Homo sapiens: one gene and its partners. The protein of the gene in region 2 interacts with the protein of the main gene of each other region in a pairwise test. Each region holds a gene or a part of one and is shown on either strand. Other genes may lie near its edges.

Region 1 (3,658 bases), on a different chromosome or scaffold from region 2:
AATGTTATTCATTCATGTTTTTCTGATTAGCAGAAAGCAAGGTGGGGACAAACTAATCAAAAAACAAACATCAAAATACTCCGCAGTGGGAGTTCAGTGGTGTTAGCAGAGATAGCACTTTCAAAGCTAATTTGGTGCAAAATAAGGAAAGAGCAGCCACGTGCGTGTTCACAAGATGAGATGGCCAGTGCTTTTATAAAGGGAGCTTTGCCTACGCCCTTCTCTAAAATGCCAGAAGAAGAGCAAAAACAATGCTCCACTAACCAGGCTCAGAAAGGAACAGCAGAGGGTCGAGGTGACTTATGTTCCCATAAGAAAACAGTTTAAAAATATTTTCCAATTAATCCTAAGTATTTTATTAAAGAACAGCAACATTCTTAAATGATCTATTTACTATATGTGACAGAAAGACATGAAACAGAAAATATCAGGAAACAGAAAAACCCACTGAAAATGTAGTTATAAAAATTATATAGAAGTACTTTAAAAGAAGAAACTGTAACCATTCAACCATATGTATCTCAAAATATTTATTGTCTTTTATTAATTAAATAACTATAATACTACGTTTTCAGATGGCTCTGAAATGTGTTTTGTTTTGTTTTGAGACAGAGTTTCACTCTGTCACCCATACTGGAGTGCAGTGGCTCGATCTCGGCTCACTGCAACCTCTGCCTCCCAGGTTCAAGCAATTCTCCTGCCTCAGCCTCCCAAGTGGCTGGAATTACAGGACTCCACCATGCCCAGCTAATTTTTGTATTTTTAGTAGAGACGGGGTTTCGCCATGTTGGCCAGGCTGGTCTCGAACTCCTGATCTCAAGCGATCCGCCCACCTCAGCCTCCCAATGTGCTGGGATTACAGGCATGAGCCACCACGCCCAGCCCTGAAATATTTCAAAGCTTCTTTTTTATTCTGTTATTTGTACAGTCTTCCAAATCTCACTCCATTATAATAAACATAATTTAAATAAGTTTAATATAAATATAAAAATGCTAGCAGTATATTTTAAATTCAGTTTAATAAAGTAAAAGGTAAGCAGAAAAATTAAAATGTCTAAGTTTCTCTCTAATTTACTTGAATAATCATACAATATCTACACTGAAAAGGCCCTCCAAGATTGGCTCCAACAGCCAATCTTGTTCCCAACAGCACTAGAAGGAATTAAAGGCACAAGGAGGGTACCTGACTTGTCCCCAAAGTTGCTAAGGCCGCAGGGGTGGGCCTGAGGCTCGCCTGGCATGACACCCAGTGCAGCACACTTCCCAGGACATCCTTCTCCTCTGAGCACTCCTTCCCCAAGCTTCAGTGTTGCCACCTGCCTTTTCATTAGGTTTATCATTCAGAAAAGACTGAGACTGCTGCTGTTCAACCCCAAAGGAGAGAATACTGTAGAGATTTCACTGTAGGTGTGCTTCACCCACATTTCACAGCCAGTTCTACTGTACCTGAGATCTGAATGAAGGTGCTGAATACAATCCATTCAACTGAAGTGGTAAGTTCCCATTTAGTGGCCACCGCACAAAGTACAAGAAATAATTTTCATGTTTCATGGAAGAAGGTGAATGTGAACCATTTGCAACCCCCGTTAAAAACAAAATAACAAACGCAACAGAGACTATCTGTTGCTACCTTTAGTTTAGTACAGACTAAGTTAGCTTTGCAATACACAAATAGCAGGCATTATCTGACACATAAATACTGGCAGGGAAATTTTTTAGGCAGAACTAAGAGATACTTTTAAGACAGAATTCATGGTGGCTCACGCCTATAATCCCAGCAGCACTTTGGGAGGCCAAGGCAGGCGGATCACCTGAGGTCAGGAGTTTGACACCAGCCTGACCAACATGGACAAACCCTATCTCTACTAAAAATACAAAAAAATTAGCCGGGCATGGTGGTGGACACCTGTAATCCCAGCTACTCGGGAGGCTGAGACAGGAGAATCGCTTGACCCCTAGTAGACAGAGGTTCCGTCGCACTGAGATCGTGCCATTGCACTCCAACCTGGGCAACAAGAGCGAAATTCCATCTCGAAAAAATAAGAATTCATCATGAAACTTTATTTTTAAAACTAGACATTATCATAAGCTAATATGTAATTTAATAACCCTACAGGGAAGAATTTAGAATCAAATTCACACTAGAAGCTTGGCTATCTTTATAAAGTCACTCTGGACATGCTGTAATCATATCAAGAGCATACTCAATGTTACTGCCCCTATCTTAATAAAGTCCCTCCTGTGTAGTTGATACAAATACTCTTAGAGTCTCAACAGCATCATCAAATGGCATTAAATGCTCAATTATGCAGCATACTAATGTTGTACTAGGCACAGTAAAAAGAAAATAACATAAACCCACTACCAGAGGGGTCAAATAACTCTAAAACTTACTTAAGGACAAAATTATAAGCATCCATGTGTACAGAAAATAAGAGTGACTACAAGCCAAGAATTCGGAATCTTTCCATTACCAGCAGCTATAAACTGGAAATGACAGCAATGCAGGAAGAGAATCATTAGACAGTGATGACACAGGGGAGGCAAAAGCACACAGGCTGGACACAAAAACACTGAAAAATTCCGCAAATTTTTTAATTGCTGAATCTGAACTAGGTGAAAAACAGGAGGCTGCCAAGAAAGAAAAAATAACTGTTAACAGCAAAAGTAGATAAACAGGCAAAAGAGACAGCAATATGGTAGTTGGAACCTAATCCTAACTCTGCTTACCAGGTGACCTTGGGCAAGTCACCTCTATCTTTGAGTCTGAGGACTTCAGTATAAAACAAAAATCTGAATTAGATGAGTTCTGAGACCCCTTTTGGTTCCAACATGCTGAGTCCATAATGCAAACTAATTCTTATATAGTGTCATTGGGAATTATAACCTTTTTGATTTTCTAAAAGTATGTGAACACAAGTATAAGATGTATGGTATAGCATCCTTGGAAACAGGATGCCCATCTCAACCATACCCCATTCTGGGAAAGCACCCATTTTGTTTATATTATGTTAAAGGCAGCTTCTTACCACAGCGTGGTTCTTGAGGAGTTCCTTTCATAAACAGCATGCAGGGGGCAGCATGAGTCAATTTCTTCAAGCGAAGGTTGAGATCTTCTTTAAGATGTTCATTAGCGCTGGGTAGGAAGGAGCCACTAGATGCATGTCGCTGAACTTTTTTGGTCAACTCTGGGGCATGTGCACCATCTAATCGGTCGATTTTCTGAGAATTCTAAAGTTTAAAAAGTTATTTAGAATACATGCAGCATTCCATAATAATGACATTGTTATAGCAGATTTTTAAAGGGGACAACAGTATTACCGGAGATGTAAAAAAAGAAACCCTCATTGCCAATTGCCTGCACTGCATCTCAATTTTAGAAATACATAATTTTTTTCTTTTCTCAGAAACACACTGAGAAAACACTGCAACATCTCAAAGTCAAATCAGGTCAGTCTAACATAATACAAAAAAGACTGCCCCCACATTGGCTGGAATGAATCTATTACTAAGTATAAATGAGGTATTTGGGGAACTACGATGACACCCATGGGTGCCTGGAAGCACAGGTGTGCACCTGCTTCCTAAAAGTCATTCATCAAACCAGAACCAGCCAGAGATTCCATTATGTCCAGGCACATGCTCTAAACAACCAATT
Region 2 (3,758 bases):
TCTTCCTGGTCACAATGGTGGCACTGCTCAGTGCCTTGGCCCCCTGCCTCATCCCTCCCTGCTCAAGGACTCTGCTCCTCTGTCATGTCATACTCTCCCACACATGGGCCCTTCCTCCCTTGCACCTGCATTCTGCATCTCCTGCAATGACATGCTGTTGCATTGTCTCGCTTTGGGAGCTCTCCCTTGCTCCCGGTTCTCCTGTGACCACTACGGGCTTTCCTGCCCTTTCACAGCAGGGCTTCACCCAGAGCCCGCACGAGTCTCCTCCCCTTCCTTAACTCCCGCCGACGTCCTGCTGCTGAATGGACCAATCACAATTTCCTTCCCAGTGTGGAAAAATATGAAATGGATCATTAAAATGTTACCTTAACATTTCGGTACCAGAAGCTGCCATTTCTATGCTAGAAAGAGGTCAAAGAGAGGCTCCAATTCAGCACAAAAGTGGACAGTGAGCAATAAAGTTTAATTAACCAGTACTGTGAGGTCACCTTCACGGACTAGCATCCCTTCCGTGAGCTGAAGGACTGAATAAGCAGAAGCACAGGCCAAACCCATCCCTCCATGCTCCCCACTGTGCAGATGGGCTCACTGAGGCTCTGGTGTACATTGCTTGCTCAGCACTGGATCTATTTCGGGCCAAAGTGTCAGCAGAACTGATACCCACAGGGCATCCAAGTCCACATCCAGACTGGGCTCCCTCTAATGCCATCTCTTAAACCGAACCACTGCCTGCCGATGGTGAGTTTCCAATCACGAGCTGCACTGGGGGTGCTGGAGGCCTGGCTGGGCACACATCCTGGTGGGTATGAAGGGGATTTGGGAGTGGCATCTAGAAGATCAGCATGAGGGGCACAGAGGAGAAAGAACCCACAGCTTGCAGCCAGCAGGGGAAACTGGCTCAGCACACAGACAGGGCCCCAGTGAAGCCCATCCAGGCCAGCTGCCCTAAGTACAGACCTGAGTGGGACAGGACAGGACTGATAACTAAGGAAAACGAGAGAAACTGAGTGTGCAGGGGCCCTACTGCCTTCTGCCTGCAAGGAGGCTATGCTGGGTGTGCAAACAGAAGAGCAGGTACATGAAGATCCTCACTGAGGGGGCATGAGGAGACACCAGGCCAGAAGAGGCAGGGCCAGCAGGGCCTGCGAGAAGACCAAAGGAGACAGTCAGTGAACTATGGGGGAGCCCGGCACCCCATCCAAGCTGCTGGGGTCAAAGGCAAGTCCAGTGCCAGCCCCTCCAATGGCCCAGGCCCTGCCTGGCCTGCTCCAAGCTGCTGCCCATCTGAGAGGAGCCCTCTATGGGTCAGTGCTGGGTCCTCCAAGGCCACCGTCACACGGCACCTCAGTGCCATGGTTAAATCTAGGGACCCGAGATCACTAGATTCACCGCTATTTCCTGGCTGTATGGTCTCGAGGAAGTCATTCCCATCCCCAGAGTCTTGTCTTTTCGTCGTGAAATGGGACATTAACACGTACACCTCACAAAATTCTCACAAGGATTAAATGATGAGTCTTATTCGATGAGATCCCATGCTTTAGGAACTTATTATGGGGGCCCACCCACTGTGTACCATCACATCCAAGGGGCTGGGGAACAGAGGTGACAGGTGGCTATGTAAGAAAAATCTCAGCAAACAGCAGGGAGGAGGAGGCCACGCCGTCTTTCTGAAAAGAGGAGAGGTCTTCTCACTTTCGTCTGATCCCTACACTGAGACGCACAGGGCCCCAACATACCAGCCACTCCCAGTGTCAGTCTTTCCTCTCCGGCTGATATGTTAGGACCAGCTGCTCCATAGAGTCAATCTGCAGGAGAGGGAGCAGCCATCAGAACCTCTGGGAGATGCTCTTCCAGTTGGCCTTAACGGCCGCCCATGCAGGCTGGCAGCAGCAGCAGGCAGGGGTGAGGCAGGTGGGAACTCCAGCTTGTGGATTTCCCTAGCCCAGGGAAGGCAACCCTCCCTCCCTCACCCACTCTGCCTGCATCCCACATGGGAACTCATGCACCGATCCACCCACACACACTCAGGCCTCCTTGAAGGAAGACTTGAGCAACAGGAAGAGGACAGACAAGAACCCCAAGGGGGCCAGGGGCACAGAAGAGAGAGGGCCACGGCAGTCACCAGGGGCCACCTGTCGCTTTCACCTAGAACCACCACACACTTGCCTGGCCATGGTCTGCTATTTCCCAGAAACTGGAATCCGCTGCTCGGTACTTCCTCCCGGGGTAGAGCTGCCACACGGCGGGCAGCTGGGAGAAGGGCATCTGGCCGGAGGAGAGTAGCTCCCGGGTATGCACTGCCATCTGCCACAAGTGCACTGTGATGCTGGGTTCATACTGAAGGGACCAGAAAAGAGGCGGCAAATCATGGATAGGGTTCCCTGCCAACTGGGCTGCACACAAGCAATGGCCAGTGGGCTGCCAGGGTCAGAGGTAAATGTTTTCAGAATTCCAGACCAAGAGCCTTGGCACTGGTACTTGTGGCTCCATCTAGGATGGCTGGGGCCCTTCTGGCCCCCTCTGACCTGCACCCTGCCTCGCCCCACTGCAATCCCCAAATTTAGCCACTGTTTCCAACCTGTCAACACCTTGGGTTAAAGCTGAGTATTCTCTTGGGGCTCCATCTCTGCCATTGCCGTAATTTTTTAAATCTTCGTTTTAAAAACAAGATATCCATGGACTCTGGATCTGAGGGTGATAGATTTTCCCGCCAAAATATATGGCAGTTCTGATCATGACCTTCACACACTTATAGTAAATATACGAAATAAGGCTGGGAGCAGTGGCTTATGCCTGTAATCCCAACACTTTGGGAGGCCAAGGCAGGAGGACTGCTTGAAGCCACGAGTTCAAGACCAGCCTCGGCAACATAATGAGACTCTGTCTCTACAAAAAATAAAAAATTAGCTGGCCATGGTGGCATGTGCCTACAGTCCCAGCTACTCGGGAAGCTAAGGTGAGAAGATTTCTTGAACCTGGGAGGTAGAGGCTGTTGTAAGCTATCGTCAGGTCACTGCACTCCAGCCTGGGAGACAGAGCAAGACTCTGTCTCAAAATAAATACATAATAATAAAAATAACAAAATTAGGCTGGTACTGGAAGTTAGAAAGATGATAGGAAAAGTAAAACCAAAGCTTCCTACGTTATGCAACAAAATGGAAAGTCTTTTGCACAATTTTCTAAGTATTTGTCTTCTTTTGTGATAAAATGTCTTTTTGAATTAAGAATATTAGTGCTCTATCAATCAGACATGTTGTGAATAATTTTTCTCAGTTTGTCGTCCTCACTTTTTTTATGGACTGCTTTTGCAAAGAGAAGTATTTTAAATTATACGGCAAAATCTCTCCTTCTCTGTGTATTCTGACTGTAGATCAGAGATCAGCAAACTAAGTCTGGCTTGCATCTGCTTTTGCAAATAAAGCTTTATTGTAAATAAACTAAGGCTCCTTCCCTCATTCCTTTACCGTTGCCTTTAGCTGCTTTTGCACTGCAATAGCAGAGCTGAGTAGCTGCAAGAGCATAGCTCTCCAAGTGGAAAATGTTTACCATCAGATCCTTTACAGAAAAAGGTGGCTGATCTTTGCATTAGATGTGTCGCCCAGGAAGCCTAATTCCCACCCTAAGACATCGATCTATTTTTAAGAAAGAAGGGGAAAAAATACTTACTAAGTAGGTCCCTTATCCCACCCGTGGCTAAGTTATTTGAAGAATCCATTCTATTTCCACTGAATCATTTAAAAAAAAAAAAAATCTTA
Region 3 (2,310 bases), on a different chromosome or scaffold from region 2:
CAGGAGTCTGGGGAGTAAAAATCTCCAGCACCATCGATTCAGATGTCTCCATCTAATTTGTCAGGGTCACAGGTTTTCCCAAGCAGTTTGCCGATGCTGGCATAATAGACTTGCCTTGGCTGGCAACTGTCTTTAAATTTTATCCTTTGAAACTATTAAGTCTCGGGCTTGCTCCTCAGTTTTTTCAAGCCGTCCTACTGCAAAAGGTGAAAAGCTTTTTCACATGCCACCAGAGGCCCTCTAACTTTGACACCTGGCTTTCCATTGCCTGTTATTGTCCTTGGCTGTTAAGTATGCTTCTATAGAACAAAAATGGCTTAACAATGGCCATTCAACCCTGTTATCCTCATAGCTACAATTTTCTCCATACATCTAAAATGTGAGGCAATCAGATATTGTCTCTCCTTGTACAACTACCCAATCCCTATTAAATGCCAGTGTTAAGTTGTAACAACTGGGACTTGTGACAGGACTGTCCTCCACCTATCAATGATGGGGTCTGGGCTGCTTATCTTTAAGTGTATACCACACAGTCTCTATTACCTATTTCCATATGTGTGAAAACTGAAGCAGTTTGTAAAAAAATTAGAATGCTTTCCAAAACAAACTGAAAATACAGAACAAAAAATTAAATATAATGTCAAAAGTATTTAAGTGAAATAATAGATTTATTCAAAGAGAAATAAAATGTCCTGGGTAAAGCTTCTGTAATAATACTATTTCTGATACTGTATCTCTGAAAAATGGCTAACTAGTCACCTTATCAATACATTTAAGGCATCAATAATAGGTACCACTGAGGACATACATTGTGAAGAAAGAGAAGAATAAGTCAAATACTAAAACATACTTATCATGACAACTCAAGGTGACATGAATATTTAATGAAAATTTAGAATATAACAACATATGACTCTCATTCTGTGGACATAAAAGGAAAAATACAGTAATTCATTTTACTCATTACATTTTACAAAATCAGCCCAATGAAGCAGTATTTTTTAATAAAAACAGTAATTTAATTTCAAACAAATATATTACCATCCTATTCCTTTATCTTGTATATATGTATCTAATTGGCAAAACATACTTTACTGAAATCAGTAACAATCCAATCCATGATACTTCAATTGCTTCGATCAATAAACATCTTAAATTTGAAACTCATTTTTCTTATGCCATAAGCCTGATTATCAGTTCTATAAAAACGCTACACCCTATTGCTTGGCCCATTAAGTGTAACTAGTCTTCTGCACAAGGCTAAGTGGCTAAGGTACTTTTGAACAACCACACACAATTCATCAAGCACACACACTCACTCCTGCTCCTCTCACACACGGCCACCAGAGCAGCTCCCCTAGTTCTCTTGTTCCTCATAGTGAGCATAGCCACTAGCATAGGTCCTTCCTAAATTCAAATTAGTAAACAAATCTGATGACTCAGTATCTGAATCCTTTCTGCCTTCATCTTCTTCCTCTTCATCATCCTCTGCTTCATACTCATCCTCCTCCTCATCGTGGTAGCTGGTATCACCATACTTATCAGATGAAAGGTTCTTCCAATAAGCATCATACCCAGAAGCTCCATCTCCCTCTTCACCTCCAGTCTGCCTGCCAAATTTCAGGGAGCGTGCTATAGAAGACAGACAAGTACAAGGCATTTTGTTAGTTCCAGTTCTCTACATTCTCATCTTCCTCTATAAAATTTCATGGATTTCATTGGCTGCTTCAATCCCAAATGAAAAAATAGGTCACATTTTCCTAATTTTTTCACCTGAGTCTATATACAACACCATAAAAAATAAAAATTACAGTGTAATTTCATTAAATCTAGAAAACAAATTAGACCAACAGACCACTCCAAAGGTATTAAGGCATGTTTAAAACAAAAATACCTTCCGTTTGGCCACTGACAGTTTATTTTCAAATCACATAAATCACAGAATACAGCTGATTTCGTATCAGTACATTTTTCTTAAGACAGCTATTTTACAATGCAGATGCCCTTAAAAACAAAGCCTGTCATTTCTTCTGCCTTAATAGTGACACAAAGTTCAGTGCAGAAGATCAGCAAAATCATCAGTCTCACCTCACCATGCAACTACATCTGTGATTAAACAAAGCAGTCAGTCACTTAGAATTATGGTTCCATTCTGATATGTTTGGTTAAGAGTCAAACTTCTCTTTAACAAAATTGCGAGCTGCATTACTATAAGCATGCTTATTCCTTCACAAAAAAAGTTACATAAAAACCATAAAATAATTTCCTATAGTAGTGCTATATTACATAAATAAACATAGGTGCTCAAAT

The links.
Region 1: the proteins of TCL1B (region 2) and GLRX3 interact in binary tests that used the Homo sapiens proteins (3 or more experiments, as listed by UniProt).
Region 3: the proteins of TCL1B (region 2) and ZNF330 interact in binary tests that used the Homo sapiens proteins (3 or more experiments, as listed by UniProt).

The regions. Positions count from the first base shown.
Region 1 is NC_000010.11:130,160,369-130,164,026, reverse strand, and holds part of GLRX3 (glutaredoxin-3), read right to left. Parts: intron 3,232-3,658; coding exon 3,030-3,231; intron 1-3,029. UniProt on the Homo sapiens protein: Together with BOLA2, acts as a cytosolic iron-sulfur (Fe-S) cluster assembly factor that facilitates [2Fe-2S] cluster insertion into a subset of cytosolic proteins.
Region 2 is NC_000014.9:95,689,318-95,693,075, reverse strand, and holds the end of TCL1B (T-cell leukemia/lymphoma protein 1B), read right to left. Parts: intron 2,341-3,758; coding exon 2,170-2,340; intron 1,809-2,169; coding exon 1,755-1,808; 3' UTR 1,740-1,754; intron 1,146-1,739; 3' UTR 448-1,145; downstream 1-447. UniProt on the Homo sapiens protein: Enhances the phosphorylation and activation of AKT1 and AKT2.
Region 3 is NC_000004.12:141,233,037-141,235,346, reverse strand, and holds the end of ZNF330 (zinc finger protein 330), read right to left. Parts: intron 1,633-2,310; coding exon 1,358-1,632; 3' UTR 650-1,357; downstream 1-649.